Regions from separate parts of the Homo sapiens genome. Here region 1 is linked to region 2. Evidence: fine-mapped expression QTL. Tissue or cell type: whole blood. Region 2 holds a variant in brackets; the other region holds the start of a gene. All regions are shown on one strand. Distances are from middle to middle. Region 1 holds the start of TCL6 (T cell leukemia/lymphoma 6). Region 2 holds the start of LOC124903372.

Region 1 (9,560 bases), 12 kb before region 2:
CTTCTTTTAATTGTCCTGCCCTCACCGTTGAGGAGTTTCCAGTTGGGAGACCTGCCCCAGGGGCCTAGATGAGGATGCTGGAGTGGAGGAGTAGAAGGAGGAGGGGCAGCTGCCTGTAATCCTCAGAACAGCTCTCCTCTGTAGCACACTCTCTGAGCCTCATTTTGAAGTGACTAATCTTCTACTTTTAAGATCAATAGCTCTGAAACGTGTTCAAAGGGAAGTGGAAGGGTGAAATATAGCAGCAGCCTTCAAGCTGGATTTCTGATTCTGTTGGCCAAACCAAGCCCTGAGGCTGTGGCTCATAAATTGTTCTGTGTCTCCCATGCCAGCTACCTGCACAAGAAAGACAGTGATGGCGGGTGGGACAGCAGGGCTGGTAATGGGCTTTGATTGGCAATGGTGTCAGGGATGTCTGCCCCATGTCACTGAGGATGTTGATACCTGATGGATAAGAATCAGGCTGCCTGCCCCAGACAGGCCCACATGGGGACAGCAGGGTCTTAGTGGGGCTCCTCAGAAGCCAGCAGTCTGAGATACTGAGACATTGTAAGCCATTCTCAAAATTTCCACACTGAGGACTTCTCTTACTCATTGTTTTCTTCTTCCCTGGATTCCTGATTTGAAAATTTGGTTGCCAAACTCTGTATATAAAGTGATGTAATAGCTAAGTAACTATATCCATCAGAATTCCTTCCAGATAGAGCCCATATTCCTAGTTGCTAGAATATACAAAGAATGCTCAAAGCTCAACAGTAAAAAACCAATCTACTTAGAAAATGAGGAAAAAATGTGAACAGACATTTCACCAAAGAGGATATAGAGATGGTAAATAACCATATGAAAACATGTCCAACCTCATTAGCCATTAAATGAGTGCAAATTAAAATCACGAGATACCCCTATACACCTATCAGAATGGCTAGAATACAAAATAATGAAGACACCAAATGCTGGCAAGAATGTGGAAAAACTAGATCTCTCCCACGTTGCTGGTGGGAGTATAAAATGGTACAGCCACTTTGGAAAACAGCTTGGCAGTTTCTTGTAAAAGTAAACATGCAACTACCATAAACCCAGAAATAAAAACTGATGTTCACACAAAACCTGTACCCAAATGTTCCTAGCAACTGTATTCAAAATCGAGACTGGAAGCCATTCAAATTTCCTTGCACAGGTGAATGGTTAAACTGTTGTATGTGCATACCATGGAATACTATTCATTGATAATGAGGAGTGAACTCTTAACAGATACAACAATTTGGATGAATTTCCAGATAATTATGCTGAGTGGATAATGTCAATTCGAAAATGTTATATACTGTATGATTGCATTTTGATGGCAATCTTGAAAGAACAGAAGTATAGAAATGGTGACTAGATTAGTACTTGCCAGGCGAGTGGGGAGGAGGTGGCTCTGGCAATAGAAGGGTGGCTTGAGGGGTCCCTTTGATGGAACTGTTTTGTATCTTGATTGTGGTGGTGATTACATGAATCTGTGCATGTGATATATTGCATATAACTAAATGTGCACGTACACACGCACACACACAAATAAGTGCATGTAAAGGGAAATCTGATACAGTGGATCATATCTAATAAGATGGGTCATATCTGAATACAGTGGATTATCAACCAGGGCTTTCTTGGTTATGATGAAACCAAGGAGAACCATAGGAGAAAAGTGAATGAAGAATATATGGAATCTCTCATATTATTTCTTCCAACTGTATGCAAATCTACCATTATTTCTCAATAAAAAGTTAAAAAAAGAGACAGAATTTTGCCTTGGAGTTAATCTAATTAATGTGTTGTTTTGACCCATTTACCTTCTGGGGTAGATAAATCCAAATTGCTGTGACTGGTCCCAGGAGGACCCATAAGAGTTCAATGGTCTGTCCTAGGAGAGTGGTCTCTGGAAAGTGGCCCAGGATCAATAAACTGCTGCTGTCTACCTTTGAGGGTGCTACCTCCAAACACAGTCACATTGGAAGTCAGGGTGTCAACCTAGGAATTGGGGGGAAACACAAACTTTCAGTCCTTAATGGGAATCCAAGTCAGGGGGTCATAAGTTGAGTGTCAGAAGAGAAAGATTAAGGAGGTATTATTAGTGCCGGTGGGCCAAACATGAAGTCTAGACACATTACTTAATCATTACATTCATTCATATAGTAAATATTCACCAGGTACATATATACTGAGTGCTGGGCTAGTTTCTGATGATGCAGAAATGAATGGCTTTATTGTCTTCGTCCTCAAGGCCCTCATGGTCTAGTGTAGAAGACAGACTGTAAATATTTACCATTCAGTACGATGTGTGCTGTTGCAGAGCGTGGCTTGGGCGCTATGGGGAACCAGAGGGCATGGAGCCTGGTTTGGAGGGGCAGGGAAGACTTTCTGAAATATGGGAGACAAGTCGAAGCCTATCTGACCAAGGCACCATGCAGGAGGAGGCGGGACATTCATGGCACAAGGCCAGCATGGCAGCAGTGTGAGGTGTGATGGGTGTGACCCATTCAAGGAACTGCCAGGTGCTCCATCTGAACCAACATGTCTGAGCTGGGGGCCTGGCATGAGGGTCATGCAGTCCTGTGGGTGCCAAAACAAGGTGGTTAATTTTATCCTAAAAACAATTGGCATCTACTGAGGAGTTTTATTTGGGAAGAGGTAAAATTAAATTAGAATGGGCAATGTATCTCTGGAAGCAGAGTGAAGGGGGAGCTGGAGGGGCAAGCCCAGAGGCAGGGCCAACACTGAGCTGCATGGTCCCTGCGATGGACAATCTGAGCCTGAGGTAAACGGGCTGATGTGGGACTGACGGATGCAAGGTGACAGGCTGAGGCTAGGGACCGTCATCACTCCCAGTCACACTGCAAGCTGCAGCAGGGTAGAGCCACATCTGATTTGTCCCCAGTGCCTGACCAGAGTTGGGGCTCAGTGTTTGTTGAGTGAATTCTTACTGCATGGCCAGGGTTTCTGGTCCTGGCAGCTGGGTGGATGGAGGGGTCATATTGAGAATCCTGGAGTGCAGTAGTAGCCAGGTGTGAAGAGTCAAGCAGGTCTGCAGCCTGAGGATCAGCATGGCAGCAGGAGGGTCCTCTGGGAGCTGGTCATGAATTTGATATGGACCATGGGATGGTGCCCACTTTTGTTTGTATCCTGGGGTACAGATCACAGCTCCATGAAGGTTTGAGCTAGGCAGGTGAGCCACGCTGGGAGCAAAGATGGTGGTGGCTAGGTACTTGCTTATCCCTATACCAATCAGCAGGATGTGGGTGGGGCCAGATAAGAGAATAAAAGCAGGCTGCCCGAGCCAGCATTGGCAACCCGCTCGGGTCCCCTTCCACACTGTGGAAGCTTTGTTCTTTTGCTCTTTGCAATAAATCTTGCTACTGCTCACTCTTTGGGTCCACGCTGCTTTTATGAGCTGTAACACTCACCGCGAAGATCTGCAGCTTCACTCCTGAGCCCAGCAAGACCACGAGCCCACCGGGAGGAATGAACAACTCCAGACACGCTACCTTAAGAGCTGTACCACTCACCGCGAAGGTCTGCAGCTTCACTCCTGAGCCAGCGAGACCACGAACCCACCAGAAGGAAGAAACTCCGAACACATCTGAACATCAGAAGGGACAGACTCCAGACACGCCACCTTAAGAGCTGTAACACTCACCGCGAGGGTCCACGGCTTCATTCTTGAAGTCAGTGAGACCAAGAACCCACCAATTCCGGACACAGTGCTGAGAATCATGCCTTGAAATCTAGCAGCTCTGTTAAAAACTGAGCAAGGTGTACTTCGGGGTTGTGTTGAGAAGGTTGGTGTTCAGCTAAATCAGGAGGGAAGGCCAAGGAAAATCAGGCTTGGCACCTGTCAACAGGTGGGACCCAATAGCCAAGCAAATGGTCCTGCAAACTGTACTACCCAACGTTCACAGCAAGGATTCCAACTTCTCACCAGGGCATGGAAAATTTGCCTTCATGTCAACCACCACCTTAGCCCTTGACTACCCAACGGACTCTTCCCAAGTCAACAGCCACTTCCTCCCTGGGGCTTAACAGGCATTCCTTGAAGCCTGCCCCGGGCAGTTAGTCCTTCCCTTTTGTGTGAACTCTCGGCTGTTTTCGTTGTCTGCACACAGAGCAGTGGTCTAGGGAGCGAAGGGTTTTGGAATGGACCTTTTCCTTTCTTAGCTTGCTGTAGGGATTGTGCTTCAGCTAAGTAAAGTGGAAAAACAGAAGTACAAAAGCAACAGCCCCAGATCTAAGGGCACCGTAGCTCTGGAATCTGGATTTTATTCCAGATTCAACCCTCAGCAGGGAGTTGAAGTGGTCAGCCCTGTGCTTTACAAGGCTGATTGGGCAGCACCCATAGTAGAATTGTCAATATAAAGTAATTGAAAGGATCAGAATCCAGGGTTTTCGTTGTTTTTAAGTTTTTAAGTTTTAAAAACAAAGTTGTTTTTGTTCGTTTTTAAGTTTACTTCTCTTTAATCGGTCTCACTTTATTGACCAGGCTGGTTTCGAACTCCTGGGCTTAAGTGATTTCTCCTGTCTCAGCTTCTCAAAGTGCTGGGATTACAGGCGTGAGCCGCTGCACCCAGCCCAGAATCCAGTTTTAAAGAGTTTATTCAAGCCAAAAGCTGGGAATGGCCATCTGAGAAACACAGACTCTAGGAAAATGGGGCCAGGGCCCTGAAGTTAAAAGTTAAAGTCTTGCTTACATAGGCAGAAAGCAAAGACATTTAGTAACCTTGTAGAACATTTTCTTGTATAACTTTTCTTGTTTTAACTTTCTTGTTTAACATTTTCTATGCAAGGCTGGTTTATGAGTTACAACCTATAATTAATTATAGGTTGTTCCCCTGCCTCCACCTTGTTTTCTTTTCTCTACAGCTTGTTTTCATTTCCTTTCCAATTTAAGAATGTGTTTAACATTCTATCCCAGACAATGTGATGGTCATGAAGTCTCTGTCAGAGAGGAAAGAGGGAGTTAATCTATAATGAAGATCAACAGTGAAGAGGAAAGGGGTCTTCCCTGGAACGCTTCAGTCATATACGACATTTTACACAACAATGTAAGTAAGGAAAAAGGCTAATCTATAATCAGAGAAACAAAGGTTGCAGCTGCCTGTTTACATGACTCAGGTCCCATGATCAAATTCCCTTAAGGCTCGAAATATTTTAAAGTTCCAACAGCTTAGATTTTGAATTGCTTATTTTCACAGAATGGACCTGTGTAAGGAGGTATGTGTGGGAGAAGATTCCAGAAGGTCTTGAGACACTCCAGATGAAGGTTGGTGTGGGGCTGTGCTGCTGGAGCACCAGAGAGTGAAAAGAGGCAAGCGATTTATAGTCTCATCAAATATCGACAAGTTTGGGTTTTCCTTTAGAGTTGGGCAGGGCCTGGCTGGACTTCTTTCTCCACCAGTCTCCGGGAGGCTCAAACAAGTTCTGATTTTCAGGTTCTGAAAAAGCTCTCAGGGAAAAAGCAGCTTCCATTCTGTTTTTTTTCCCTTTCTGCATTCTACTTCCCTTTTATTTTTGGCCTGGTAATTTCTGTCTTATCAGCTTTTAGATGTCCTTGAGATTTTTCTTTTCTTTCATTTTTTTTTTTTTGAGACAGGGTGTAAACCAAAAACTCTTTTATTCTTTTTTTTTTTCTTTTGAGACAGGATGTAAACCAAAAATAAAATTCTAAGCCCCGCCCTCCCTGCAACCATCTGAATGGACTTCCTCCTGGGCCAGGGTACTTTTAACCTGAAAGACTGGTTCAGGCCATGATGGAAAGTAGAGGTCAGACAGGACTCATTATACCTCTCTGATGAGAAGCATTTACAATCTATTTTCTCTGAAGCCTGCTACCCGGAGGCTTCATCTGCATGGTAAAACTTTGGTCTCCACAACCTCCTATCACAGCACAGACATTTTCTTTCTATTGAGCCCAGATCTTTAGATAAACTTAACCAATTGTCAACCAGTCAATTTTAAATCTACCTGTAACCTGGGAGCCCCCAACCTCCACCCAACAATTCAAGTTGTCCCACCTTTCTGGACAGAACCAATGTATTTCTTAAATGTATTTGATTGACATCTCATGTCTCCCTAAAATGTATAAAACCAAGCTGCACCCCGACCACCTTGGGCATAGTTCTCAGGATCTCCTGAGGGCTGTGTTACAGGCCATGGTCACTCATATTTGGCTCAGAATAAATCTCTTCAAATATTTTACAGAGCTTGACTGTTTTTATTTGTTAATGATCTCACTCTATCGTCCAGGCTGGAGTGCAGTGGTGCAATCATGGATTACTGCAGCCTCTACCTCCCTGGGCTCACATGATCCTCCCTTCTCAGCCTCCCAAGTAGCTGAGACTACACACATGCGCCACCATGCCTGGTTAATTTTAAAACTTTTTGTATAGATGGAGGTCTTACTGTGTTGCCCAGGCTGGTCTCAAACTTCTGGCCTCAAGTGATCCTACCACCACAGCCTCCCAAATTGGTGGGATTACAGGGATACGATTTTTATTTTATTTTTATAGAGATGGGGGTCACAGTATGATGCCCTGGCTGGTATTGAACTCCTGTGTTCAAGCAATACCCCTGCCTTAGCCTCTCAAAGTTCTGGGATTACAGGTGGGAGCCACCATGCCCAGCCTGGGAGAAGACTTTTAAAACATATTTTGTTTAGGCCAGTCATGGTGTTGAGGTCAGGAGTTCAAGACCAGGCTGGCCAACATGGCGAAACTGTGTCTCTACTAAAAAATATAAAAAACTTAGCCAGGCGTGGTGGCAGGTACCTGTAGTCCCAGCTACTTGGGAGGATGAGGAAGGAGAATTGCTTGAACCCAGGAGGTGGAGGTTGCAGTGAGTCAAGATCATGCCACTGCACTTCAGCCTGGGTGACAGAGTGAGACTCTGTCTCAAAAAAACAAAAGCAAATCATGTTTTGTTGAGTTTGTTTAGCTGTGTATTCACAAGTTGATTGGCATCTCTCAGCCCATCCCAACCCCACCCCGGAATGCTCTTCCCAGGCTTCCTAACAGGTATTCTCCTTTACCTGGATTGCATTTGTAGAAAACACTCTGCTTCAGTGGGAGGCAAGGAACAGAATATTTCTCTGTCTAGGGCATACTCTTCCATGTTATCTGATTCCAATTCTATGGGACCTATTTTACCATTCTGAAAGCTACAGATAACCGATAGAAATGAAAAATAATTCTTGTCTATGGATATGCAAATGCTTATATTTTGAAGAGAGACAACCCTTCCTCACTTCCCCCCAAATCCCCTAGTTTGCTTCCATTTTACACATTCATTTCAATATTTCTCTTCTCTTCCTTCTTTTCTTTTTTTTTAGGTTATCTCCCTCTGTGCCAGGCCAGAGTGCAGTGGTGCAATCACGGCTCACTGTAGTCTCAACCTCCTGGGCTCAAGAGATCCTCCCACTTCAGCCTCCCAAGCAGCTAAGACTACAGGCACGTGTCATCATATCTGGCAAATTAAAAAAAAAATTATAGAGATGGGCTCTCCCTGTGTTTCCCTGGTTGGTCTCAAACTCCTGGGCTCAAGTGATCCTCCCATCTTGGCCTCCCAACTTACTGGGATTACAGGCATTTGCCACTGTGCCCAGCCCATTTCAATATTTCTGATCAATAAATGTGCCTGTCCTTCAGATTCTCCTTTGAATTGGCTGTCACACCTCTTCAGTTTCTTCACTGAGGAGTTAAACATAATCTTGAGCAGCACGTGATATTGTTTAGCTCTGTGTCCCCACCAAATCTCATCTTGAATCGTAATCCCCCTGTGTGTCAAGGGATGGACCTGGTAGGGGATGATTGGATCATGGGGGGTGGTTTTCCCCATGGTGTTCCCATATAGTGAATGAGTTCTCACGAGATCTGATGGTTTAAAAGTGTTTGGCAGTTCCCCCTTCTCTCTCTCTCTCTCTCTCTCTCTCTCTCTCTCTCTCTCTCTGGCCACTTTGTGAAAAAGGTGCTCGCTTTTCCTTCGCTTTCTGCCATGATTGTAAGTTTCCTGAGGTCTCCCCAGCGATGTGGAACTGTGAGTTAATTAAACCTCTTTCCTTTATAAATTACCCAGTTTCAGGTAGTTCTTTATAGCAGTGTGCAAATGGACTGTTACAGCACATATTCATTTTTATATCTATATTGAGTTATCATTTAACCTGTTTTTGAAAATTATCTTTTAACATGCATTTTTCTCTTTCTTATTATCTTCTTTTGCTAAAACCTGTTCTCCAGTAGCTTCCTAAGAAAGGGTGCACAGGAGACCCATTTTTTGAGCCCCTCCTTATCTGACAATGTTTTTGTTTGACCCTAACCTTTGATTAATAATGCGACTGGATGTTGAACTTGTGAAAGGAAAATAAAAACTCAGGACCCCAATTCAGTATGCCAAAAGGAAAAAAAAAAAAGAAGCTGAAAGCTGAGTCATGCAAGAAACTGCCTTTTCTTTTGCTCCTAAGTAGATGGCTACAGATAAAAGATTAAATATCTCCACAGGTAGCTACTCCATGTTCACCTTATCTTATGTAAAGTGCTGATTTACTGAGCAGGAGACAGATATGTAACTGACTATTCCCTAGCTGCTCTTCTCCTCTTGCAATGTGTGGATTACCATACCCTTCCTCTATCCCCTCCAGAGATGAATTTTTCCATGTCTGTTTCCCCCATTTAAATATTGAAGCCCTCACTATCATCTTTGGAGAAAGGGACAGATCATAGACTTGTTTCTGTGATTCTGTGTCCTTTTCTTCCAGGCATGTCCTTAACCTTGGCAAAATAAACTTCTAAATGGATTGAGACCTGTCTCAGATATTTTTTGGTTCACAAACTCTAGGGTGGGAAATATTTCCCCTCAGAACTTTGAAGGCATTGCCCCCTCATCTTCTAGCACTCAACATGGCCATTGAGATTTGATGGCATTTTAAATTCCAACATGTTTATTAATGAGACCAGTTTTTTCTCACTAGAAGTTACACATAAAATACTTAAAATAGTTCCTGGAATTTAATGAACTGAATTAATGTTAGCTATTACTATCATTGAACTATTTTTTTTCTCTGACATTCTTTAATATTTTAATTTTTTTTTCTAAAAGACAGGGTCTCACTCTTTTGCCCTGGCTGGAGTGCAGTGGTGCAATCCTAGCTCACTGCAGCCTCGAATTCCTGGGCCTAAGTGATCCTCCTATCTCAGCCTCCTGAGTATCTGGGGCAACAGGCATGTGCAACTATGGCTGGCTAATTTTTAAATTTTTTGTAGAGATGTGATCTCGCTATATTGCCCAGGCTGGTCTCAAATTCCTGGCCTCAAGCAATCTTTCTAGATTATAGGACTTCTTGGCTTCCACAATTGCATGAGCCAATCCTTTATAATAAATGTATATCCATCTGTATATGTCTTGTGTCTGTCTCTCTACCTATCAATCTATCCATCCATCCATCCATCCATCCATCCATCCATCCATCCATCTATCCATCCATCTATCTATTTTATTGTTTCTGTTTTTCTGGAGAACCCTGACTAATACAGAAGGTG
Region 2 (11,451 bases):
TCATGATAACAGCTCAGTGCAGCCTCGAACTCCTAGGCTCAAGCAATCTACCTGCCTCAGCCTCCTAAGTGGCTGGGACCACAGGCATACACCACCATGCCCAGCTAATTTATTTTTTGTAGAGATGGGGTCTCCTATGTTGACCAGGTTGGTCTTGAACTCCTGGGCTCATGTGATCCTCCTGCCTCAGCCTCCCAAAGTGTTGGGATTGCAGGCGTGAGCCACGGTGCCCAGCCAGTATACTGACTTTCAGTCAACCTCATGCTTTCAGTGCCAGTTCTTCTTGGTGCCTGATGATTGCAAACCCAGGATTTATTGGAGAGTCTCTGTTCTTGATGCCCACCCTGCCCCTCCACTTTCCCACACCCCCTTCACCTTTACCATACACTGTCCTCAACTCTTCTGAGGCTGCTCCCAAGTGTTGGGTGCTTTGATCCTGTCTGCCATTGCCTGAGCTCCTGTTCTCTCCATCCCTGTGGGTCAACAGCTTTTATTTAGTTCATTCCCTTACTATCATTTTCATAGAGTTGAGGAGGTAGGGAGGAGATAGAGGCAGGAAGTTATTCTACCACATTTGTCCAGAGTCTGCCCTGTTTGGGGGCATCAGTGGGCAGAGCTGGAAAGCCATGGTGGCTGCTGAGATTTGGAAGTACAAGACCAGGAGGAAGGAAGGAGGATGCTTAGGTATGGGGCTCAGGTGTGGGGTTCAGGTAGCCCGTGCATGGTGAGGAAAGGGAACAAATGAGAAGAGTGTGGTAGATGGTGGTGTGTTCTATCTATTTTGATGGTGGGTCAAAAGAGGGAGGTGAGGAATGGGTTGAGAGGATTTGGCCCCACTTTGAATGCAGGGCGAGGGGAAACCAGCATCTCAGATGTGCCTCAGTTTGTGCAGGGCTAAGTGGGACCCAGAGCAGGAGGGGCAGACTTGGACGGGAGGCCAGTGACTCTGGAGTTTGCAGTGAATATGCAGGGTCCTGGGTGTGATGCTTGGGTTGTTTATCTGGCCTAGGGGAAGCGACCAGAAGGCACGTGCCTCCAGTCCAGCCAGGCTGCAGGTGTTAAAAATCTCTGCAGTCACATTTTCTGGCTTCTCTGAACAGCCCCTGTAGGTGCTCACACATGTACACATGCATGCATATATATTTATATATATATACATTTACATATTTATATATATTTAAATATATTTAAATATTTAAATATATTTTTATATATATTTATATTTTATATATGTGTATGCATACACATGCACACAGATGTACACACACATATGCACATACACATATGCACACACACACCCTACAACTCAGACCTTTCCTTTCAGAGCTACCCCTGACCGAGACTTCCTTGCCATGTTACAAATGAGCATCTCTTTTAGAGTAGTGTAATAGAACGTGGCACTTCTTGATAAAAATAGAATTCTTTGACTTCTGCCCAGGCTGCCTGGTGGGCAGGCTCACAGCCTCGTTCTTTCTCAGCTTTCCACGTTATTAATTTTTAGTGCCAAAAGACAGTTCTGCTGCTCCAGGCCTCCAGCTGAGCTCTGCTAGGTTGGAAGTCCCTTCTCAGCCTGATTCCCATTAGCACAGAGCTTGGAGAAGACCCTTCCTCACTCTGATCCTGCTGTCTGGAGCTGGCAGATGCACTCCTCACCCAGCAGCCAAGACCCATGCTCCTGGTTTAGAAGGGTCCGTCCTGACAGCTATCTCCACTAGGCAGCCCAGGGTTCCTCTGGACACAGGACCCTGCCAATTTATTAGTCACGGTGGCACCGGATAGACACAGCTTCACCCAGTGATCTGCCGGCACTGCTCTCTCTTCCTCCAGTCCTGGGCTTCTTCATGTCCAAACCACGTGGAGAACAAGATAACTAGGATCAGCTCTTTTGGAGATAGAAGTCACCTTCCAGCCTGGGATCAGTGGCATAGTCTCAGCCCAGGTCTGGAGACAGGGAGGCTGCCATGCCTGCCAGCCCCATCCAGCCCCAGCTGGCAGCAGTGTGAAATAGTGCTCGCTAAAATGAGCCTGCTGTTTGCCTAGATGTGTGTTTCCCAATAATTCAGAGACCTAGATAATGGGAAAGGCGAACATCTCGTATCCCCCACTTCCCTCAGCAAAAAGAGAACAGTGCCGCAGCCACAGGCAAGGTGGGTTAGAAAACCTGTCTGCTGGCAGATTATTGTCTGTAACTTGCCTCCTTAGTTCTTCCAACACTCTCTCCTTCCCCCTCCTCCCCTCCCATGGTCCAACCCTGAGGGTTCCAGCAGCAGCTGGGAGGTCTCCGATGTTATCTCAGAGCTCCCAATCTGCTGACATTTGAAAATCTTCTGGCTATAACTTGCTCACTTAGCGGCTGCTGCTCTGCAGCCCTGAGCCCTCCTAAAGGAGACCCTACACAGAAGAGTACAATGTAAACAGCCGTCGCCAGAGTCCCCCCAGCCAGAGATAGCCCTTGGGTACATTTTGCAATATTTTGTTTTGTTTGCTCTCAGACCGGACTTGCCCCCCTTTTTAGCACAGCCCAATTCTACTACGTATACTCCCTCCTTGTTCTTTTTGTTTGGCATTATATCCTAAGCATTTCCCTGCATCATCCAAGCTCTGTGGGATGTCATTTTTAACACCCACACAGCGTCCTCTGGTGTGGTTGTATGACAAGTCACTTAACTATTCCACACCCAAAGCCTCCCCTTTTCCAAACTCTTCCCTGGGACCTCCTGAAGGTAACAGCAAGATCTGAGCAGCGCTGGATGGATCCTGCTCTCAGTCCCCTGTCTGGGAACAACGCTGAGCCTTAACAGGGATGTCAGCTTCCTAGGGCTGCTGTAACAAATCCCACAAACTGAGTGCCTTCAAACATTGTCTGGTAGTTCTGGAGGTCAAAGGTGCAGAACGAGTTTCACTGGGCTGAAACCAAGGTAGGGCTGTGCTCTCTCCTGAGGCTTTAGGGGAGAATCTGCTTCCTGAACTTTTCTAGCTTGGAGAGCTGCATTCCTTGGCCCTTCGTCCCCCTTGCTTCTCTTCCAAGCCAGTAGTGTAGCATCCTCAGATCTCCCTCTGCTTTCGTCTTCACGTTGCCTTTCCTTTTCTGCAGTCAGATGTCCCTCTGTCCCTCTTATAAGGACATTTGTGATGACATTTAGGGCCTATGTGGGCGATCCAGGATCATCTGTAGATCTAGAACTTAAACTTTTTTTTTTTTTTTTTTTTTTTTAGATGTGGTCTCACTCTGTCACCCAGGCTGGAGTGCAGTAGCACCATTTCGGTTCACTGCAACTTCTGCCTCCTGGGTTCAAGCGATTCTCCTGTCTCAGCCTCCCAAGTGGCTGGGATTACAGGTGTGCACCACCATCTCCAGCTAACTTTTTTGTATTTTTAGTAGAGACAGGGTTTTGCCATGTAGGCCAGGCTGGTCTCGAACTGTTGACCTCAGGTGATCTGCCTTGGCCTCCCAAAGCGTTGGGATTACAGGCGTAAGCCACCGCGTCCGGCCACATTATTCTTATTTGCAAAACAAATACTTATCTGGCATCAAACAGATACTTTGCATCCGGCAAAAACAGGTGGAGGTGACTGAAGGCGAATGTGGGAGGTCATGGTGGGTTAATGATCGCCAGCGCTGTCCGGTGAAATCAACCACCTGTGACAAAGGTGGTTTTTCACTTTTACTGAACAAGCATGCTATTCTACAGTAAACTCCTTAACAAATGTAGCTTTTCAAGGTCCTTAGGACTATTACCTTTCAATATTATTGGGAAGTTCTTTGCTCTTCTTAGCAGACTGCGAAACTCAACTTTGTGATGACAAGATACAGAATAAATGCATATTAACTGAAATTCTAGGCTCACACCTATGTGAGCTTTTCTCTCTCTAACAAGATGTCAGGGCCGGTTCAGGGAGTTCATCTCCAGCCACCTGTGCTAATCATCGCCCATCCTTTCCAAGTATCTAATGACACTCCCAACCAAGGTCTCTATAATTTCCAGCCAAAAATGAGTTACAACATATGGAACATCTAATTTTCTGTTTCCATTCTAGTTATTTTATTCTTATGAGCTTGTGGGCTCCATCTACCAACCTCTGGGCAAATGCTCATCTGACTTCCATAGACACACAGCAAGCAGACAACCACACAAAGAGGAAGAGGGAGAATATTTACCAGCCATGGAACATCTGCTCTGTGCTTATATCTCATATGCATTATCTCTAATTATCAAAAGAAGGTATTATTATTATTATTGTTCCGCATTCACAGATGACAAACTGAAGATCAGATTGGTTAAATACTTGTCCAACATTAACTTAGCATTTGGGCATCATAGTTGGAATTAAAACTTGGGTCTGCTCATCTCCAAAAACACCCTAAGCCTTACCACACTCATGGGACACAGCTGCAGCTGCAGGTTCTGAAAGGAAAACTAAAACTTCAGAACCCAGTTCACTATGCCAAAAAGGCAAAAAAAAAAAAAAAAAAAAAAAGCCAAAAGCTGAGTCATGCAAGAAGCTGACTTTCCTTTTGCTCCTAAGTAGATAGCTACAGATAAAAGGTTAAATAGCTCCACAGGTAGCTACTGTATGTTCACCTTATCTTACGTAAACTGCTGATTTATTGAGCATGAGACAAATACGTAATTGACTATCCCCTACCTACTCCGTTTCCTTTGCAACATGTGGATTCAGTCATGTGACCATACACTGCCTTTCTCCTCTCCAGCCTACTTTTCCACTTTAAATATCAAAGCCCTCAAAATCATCTTTGGAGAAAGGCACAGACTAGCGACTGTTTCTGTGATTTCGTGTCTTTTTACTTCCAGACATGTCCTTAACCTTGGCACAACAAATCTCTAAATCGATTGAGACCTGTCTCAGATACTTCTTGGTTTACAAGATGGAGGCTGAAATTAAAGAGAAAGATCCTCACTCAACTCACAGAGGAGCAGAATGGGAAGAGGACTTAGTGAGAATTCCCTGAACACAGGAGAAAACCGAAGCCCAGAGAGTGGATGGCCAAGTCCAAGGTCACACAGCCAAGTGCATCCGAGCAGCGCAGGATCCAGGTTTCCTGCCCCAGTGCTCTTTCTGCAGCCCATGCCACCTGTTTTCATGCTATCTCAGTTCACCTTCCAGCTACACACCTGCAATCAGAAACAGAAAGTCTGAGAGTGTGTGTGGAGCCAAAGAGGGGACAGCAGTGGTGAGGCCAGTTTCATGTCTTGTGATTTATTTTCTCCCTTTCTTTTTGGACTTTAATCTTAAGTGGACAGCAATTTGGAACAGTGTCAGCACCTTGTTGGATTGTGCTGTTTGGGAGAGGTGACACAGAGTATTTTAAAAGAGCAGGTTAAGAACTTTTCACAAGGAATCAATTGAGAGAAAATAAAATAGAAACAGACTGTCCCACATTTGGGCTGAGCACCAAACACATTTTTTTTTTTTTTTTTGAGACTGAGTCTTGCTCTGTCACTCAGGCTGGAATGCAGTGGCGCGATCTCGGCTCACTGCAGCCTTCACCTCCCGGGTTCAAGTGATTCTTCTGCCTCAGCCTCCCAAGTAGCTGGGATTACAGGTGCCCACCACCATGCCAGGCTAATTTTTGTATTTTTAGTAGAGACGAGGTTTCACCATGTTGGCCAGGCTGGTCTTGAACTCCTGACCAAGTGATCCACCTGCTTCGGCCTCCCAAAGTGCTGGGATTACAGGCACGAGCCACCGCACCTGGCCTCAAACAAGCTTTTTAATTGCATTCAGAAGTGCACCAACTAGGCACAGACCTCTGGCATGGAGACAGAATGGGAGGTTCTTGGTGTCTGGCCTGGTCTTGCAGAAATCAGGGAGTTGTGGGGACCAGGCAGCCACTGTGCATCAGATAGGAGTTTCAGCAGCAGGCAACAGAAAGCCTGCCAATGTAGCTGAAATAAGAAGGGCTTATTTTTATCCCTGAACAGAAGCTTCCAGCACTGGTTCATCAGATCAGGGCACTGAGCTGGCATCCCCATTTATACAGTTTTCCTTTCCTTCACCTTTGTAAGATGCCTGGCACAGCTCTGAGCATCAAATATCTGTGCCATGTGGGAGCACACGAGGGGACAAGTGGGGAATAGGGTCTCCTCTGTCCTCTGTCCCCAGGCTGGCTTCTCTCGTGGTAGAAGGACCCCCACAGCACCAGGCCTCATAAC[T/C]ACCCTGCTGGTAAACTGCAGGTGCTGTCACGGCTTCCTGCCTTCGTATATGAAATGTTCCTTGGCAGCTGGACTGCTGTTTGTTTACCGCACGCACAGCTCTGCTGCCTCTTGGTTACACCAGTGAGCTATTGCTCCATGACAAGCCACACCGAAATGTAGCAAGCACTTATTGTTGCCCACATGTGTCAAGTCAGTTGAGTGTTTCTGCCAACCGGGGCCTGGCTTGGCCCACCTTGGCTGAGCTTGCTCTGGTGCTAGGGTCAGCTAGACAGGTCGGCAGGAGACCAGCTGCTCTAGAAGAGCCTGGACAGGATGAATTGGTTCTCCTTCCACGTGCATCTTGCATCCCTCCAGCCAAGGATTTGAACCCAGGTCTCGTCTGACTCCAAATGCACCAAGAGGATGGAGCCCAGAGTGACACAGAGGAAGAGGCCCCTGGATGGATGCATGGGGAAGGTGAGGCCTGGAGGTGATATGCTTGAGATTACCAGGCTCTTCTGAACCTGGGGGACCTTCTCCTATGATAGCCCTGCTCCTCCAGACCCAGCAGGTGATTTCCCCAAAAGCCGCTTACAGTGAACGCACCTGATAGCAATAACTTAAGCATCCCCTGAGAATGACCCTTATGGCAGGTGCAGGTGAATGTGGTTTGGAGTTCTGAGCTAAGGAATCTGGGAGTGGCCAACCTGGAGATTCATTCCTATTCCTTATCTATGAGGAACATCTGAGCTCCTGTCCCGTCCTGTGCAACACGGACAGTACAGGGGATCAAGGCCCTTTGTTTTGGGTTAGGTAAATGTTGCCAGGTGGACACTGTTGGGGGAGGGTGCTAAGTGAAGATGCTATATATGCTGCAAGCTTTTTGTAAGTTGTGTGGCTCTCCTGCCCAGCCCACCACTGCTAGATGCTCTCCCCTGCATGTAAGCCCCAGTAAAACTCCATGTCTCCTTCAGCAGCCCTGGGTCCTTTCTTCAGCCTCTCAAACCTGCTGCCATCCCCATTGGAGTAGATAGGGGTTCAGCATAACAGCAGCCACCAGCTGGGGAAAGGCGTGGCATTTGGAGCTCCCTACATGGTCTTGACTCTAATATGGAGGGAAAGAAAACAGATTCTGCCCTGCTCAGTAAAGCCCCCTACTGGCCTCCCACCCTGGACTGTGGACAAAGCTTTTTTTTTTTTTTGAGACGGAGTCTCACTGTGTCCCCCAGGCTGGAGTGCAGTGGCGTGATCTCAGCTCACTGCAAGCTCCGCCTCCCCGGTTCACGCCATTCTCCTGCCTCAGGCTCCCGAGTAGCTGGGGCTACAGGCGCCTGCCACTACACCCGGCTAATTTTTTTTTTTTTTTTCATTTTTAGTGGAGACGGGGTTTCATCGTGTTAGCCAGGATGGTCTCGATCTCCTACCTCGTGATCTGCCCACCTCGGCCTCCCAAAGTGCTGGGATTACAGGCGTGAGCCACTGCGCCCGGCCAACAAAGCATATTTTTTTCCTCTGAGGTCTTTACCCTATAACTGCAAGTGGTTTCATGACACTGCACATGGGTTCTTATCTGGGGTTGGTAGATTCAACTCAATTCCACAGGTTTACTGGGTGTTGCCTCCCATGCTTGGAGCCAGGAGGATGCAGGGAAATGGGGCTGCCACCATACCCGCTCTTCTTATGATCCCATCACATCATTGCACCCTTTGGGGCCTGGCACCATGCTCTGGCACTTTGCCTCCATCATCTCCTTTAACCTCTGAGCTCTGTCAGGAAGGCATTACTACTATCCCTGGAATACAGACAGGAAAACTGAGTTGGATTGAGGCTCAGAGAGGTTAAGTCACTTACCCAAGGTCACAAAGCTAGAGAGTGGCAGGCCAGCATCCAAGGCCAGCAACACGAGCTCCCTCTGATCCAAATGGTGACTCTATGTTTGATCAGTGCTCTGAGAACTCTCCAAAGATCTTTATCAACTGTCATCTCTTCATTGCCCAGGCCCAGTCAGGGAGCCACTTGGCTGCGGTCCCGCTGAGATTTAGGGGCAGGACCCCTGATGTGAGGTGGAATGCTTGGTCACGCTGTTCAAGCCTCCACCAGTCACTCCTGACTGGTTATGGACACTCAATGTGCCCCGTCCTGTGTGCAATGCAGTGTGGGAAGGGGATCAAGGACCTTGGCTAATCCCAGGCATTTCCCCAGAATGTCCCAGGTGTGGACCCCTTGGGAGGTGCTGGGAAGCAGGCTGGTGTCCCACAGGCCTTGGTTCCATCCCAGCTGTGCTGTGCTAAGCTGAAACTCTTTGGGCAGCTTGTTTCACCTCATGAGACTTCTTTTTCTGAACTGTTAAATGGGATGATTCGACCTCTGCTTGGCTTTTGGTGACGATTAAACGAGATATTAGCTGTAAAGCATTTCATCCCGGGTCTGGTATAGAAGAAGCACTTGATAAATGAAAGCTCTGTTGAGTATGATGATCCGTCACCCCAGGCATCAGTGGGATCTCACAGCAGGAACAATGCCTAACTCCTAACTGATGCCCAGTAAACATCGGGTGGATGCAATGTCCAACAAGACAGATATTCATGTTCAGTTTTACAGAAAAGGAGACAGAGGCCAGAAAAGGAAGAAAGTGCCCAGGTCAGCCGGCTAGTAAGAGGCAGAGTTGAAATTTGAACCGGGTTCTGGCTGGCTGCAGCTCCACTGCTCCACTACTGCACTGTCTGAGAGCCAAAAGGCACCTTGTAGTCAGGCAGGCAGGGAGCTGGCTTCTTGCTGTCCTGCTGGATCCTGCCCTAGTGTGGCCCTCCCTGGAACCAGGGGTGGGGCTGGAGGGCAGGGCACTGAGAGAGAGCTCCTGGGAACTGTACCATCTGCACAAAGGGCACCTGCTGGGCACTCTGCTGAAAGCTGTCTGCAAACACCACTTCCTGCCTGCCTCCCTGGGGGCTCTAAGCTCAGGAGGGGGTGAGGGCCCATGTCTGCACGTGGTGAGGCCCCTGCTGGGTATTGTACCACACCTTCATTGTGCTCAGGGTGGCCAGTGGAGGCCCTTCCCAGACTCGAGCTCTGGTCACAAGCCCAACCCCCTCCTTGCTCCTGTCTGGGCTCACCTGGAATCTCCTGCCTCACTCTGTGGCCAGAGGCACCTTTGGAAGCCCAGGTCACCCCTACTACTCATGCCCCTCATTTGGAAATTTTCATAATCTACCTCTTGTTAATGATTCCATCCCATCTATAATGCTTTTCTATTTTTCTGAATTTTTCCCCGATAGGCTATAACTGCTGCAAAGATAGAGAATTGCAATGATTAATATGCATTTATGTATTTCCAAAAAGTTACCAGAATATCAAACTCATGATTTTGTCTATAGTTTGGTTAGATTCAAGCTATTTTTATATCATAAAACAACTTAAAATTTTTTTATTTTTAATTTTTGTGGGTGCAGAGTGATGTATTTATGGGGTACCCGAGATGTTAGAATGAAGCTATTAAATGTGAGTGTGAACGTTCACCTTTTTGCAGATCACGGGAATTACAAGTGACATCCTGAAGTATGATCACAAATGTTTCAAATTAAGCCTTCCTGCTAAGTTTCCAGAGGTGTGTGGCTCGGACGAAGTGTTTCCAGACCCTGATCTACTGCATGTCCTGCCTGTTGCTGGTTCTTTGCAGCAGTCCATTGACCAATGCTGTCTACAGCTTGAGAGCCTCTGCAGGCCAGGGCTGCTCTGTGCACATCCTACGTTACTATTCAAACTGCACAGCAGCATGAAAAACAGGCCCTTCTTTTCTCTCATTTACACATATGTGAAGAAGACACAGCAAGTGAGAAAACGTGACCGAAAGCCACGCGGACAGGTGGCCGCAGGGCCAAACCCAACTTCCGTGATGTGATCTGGCTACAGTTTGGAGCCCACATATTTCAATAGTTATCCCCAGGCCTGGCACGTCAAAGAGGCTCCAGAAATGTTTGCTGAGTGAGTGATGAATCAGCAATTTCTGATTTTCTCCTAAACTTAGAGAATAAGTGGCTTGTCTGCAGTCACCCAGGGCGTCCCTGACAGAGGTACAAGTAAAGCCCAGATCTCTGCATCTCTGGTTCAAGGCCTTTTGTACTACACACCGCTGTCTCTTTGTCATCATTAAAAGCAAGGCTCAAGGGACATGTTTTCTAGCCTTAGTTCCCCATCTACAAAATGGGCCTCATGGAATGGAATGTCTCCACTTCACTCCAGCATCAACAAGTGGGGAATTCTGATGGATTCAATTCGACTTCTTTCCATGGGCGTGTTCTAAGCAGCCTCTTTGTTCCAGAAGCTGCCCTCAGCCAGAGTTGGATAAGCCAATCCTCACTCCCCAGCCTCCTCTGGATAGGGATGAAGACCCCACTGGGGTTGGAAGTGCAGAGGCAGACAGGTGTATGGAGTCACCTGTAAATTGATTCAAGTGAGCCAGGAAAGCAGCAAAGGAAAGAGAAACCTGAGTGACGACGTGGTGGAGGAACAGGGCTGGAAAGAGGCTGCTGGCTGTCTGGCTTCGCAGCTCTGGCCTCCTAATCAGCCTCGCTCTTGTCTCTGGTGTTCTCTGGCTCTTGTCCATCTGTCTGTGTTTCTTTTTGCCAGCTATTGACTAATCTTTGCTGAAGCTGAGCTAGAATTCTGGTGTTTATAAGCAGGTAACTAGCTGAGCACTAGTTGATAACTTTGGAGTTAGTGGATAACCACAGGGCTGGGCTACTAAGCTTTTTCAGTTGAAAAATAAATAAATAAATAAATAAACACCACACCCAGCTAATTTTTGTATTTTTAGTAGAGACAGGGTTTCACCGTGTTAGCCAGGATGGACTCCATCTCCTGACCTCGTGATCCGCCTACCTCGGCCTCCCAAAGTGCTGGGATTACAGGCGTGAGCCACCACGCCCGGTCACCTTTGTCCTGTTTTCTACAGGTTAGAAGCAAGGCACAAGTCATACCTACATTCAAGGAGAGGGGACCATGCAAAGGATAAACTGCAGGTGAAGAACTTGAGAGCTATTTTAGAAGCTGCCTTCCACACTTTACAATCTACTTTGCAGCTATACTGAGCTCTTAGCAACTCCCTGGGCCTGCTGAGCACCTCTTGCCTTTCTGCCTTTGCGTATGCTGTTCCCTCTGCCTGGAATTCCATGTCTTCTGCCTTTGCCCACCTCATCTTAAGGCCTCTGCTTAGATGCAATTTCTTTGGGCTCTTATTAGCAGCATCCAAATCTGTGCTGGTTTCTTCTCACGCTTACTCTGCATCATAATTTTT

What was found.
Region 1: it holds the start of TCL6, and the variant in region 2 is fine-mapped to the expression of TCL6 in whole blood (TOPMed, PIP above 0.99).

What each region holds. Positions count from the first base shown.
Region 1 is chr14:95,647,152-95,656,711 of GRCh38, forward strand. It overlaps TCL6 (T cell leukemia/lymphoma 6), which reads left to right and starts at 4,946. Exons shown (of 8, transcript NR_028288.2): 1 at 4,946-5,075; 2 at 5,226-5,338; 3 at 7,358-7,475.
Region 2 is chr14:95,658,442-95,669,892 of GRCh38, forward strand. LOC124903372 reads left to right here and starts at 6,372. Exons shown (of 2, transcript XM_047432042.1): 1 at 6,372-6,635; 2 at 9,685-11,451. The coding sequence starts at 6,582. The coding sequence ends at 10,056. TCL6 (T cell leukemia/lymphoma 6) reads left to right here. Exons shown (of 8, transcript NR_028288.2): 4 at 4,039-4,223; 5 at 11,110-11,176. RefSeq lists enhancers at 4,830-4,909, 6,979-7,626, 8,273-8,919. The variant T/C (reference allele first, on the strand shown) is at 6,177.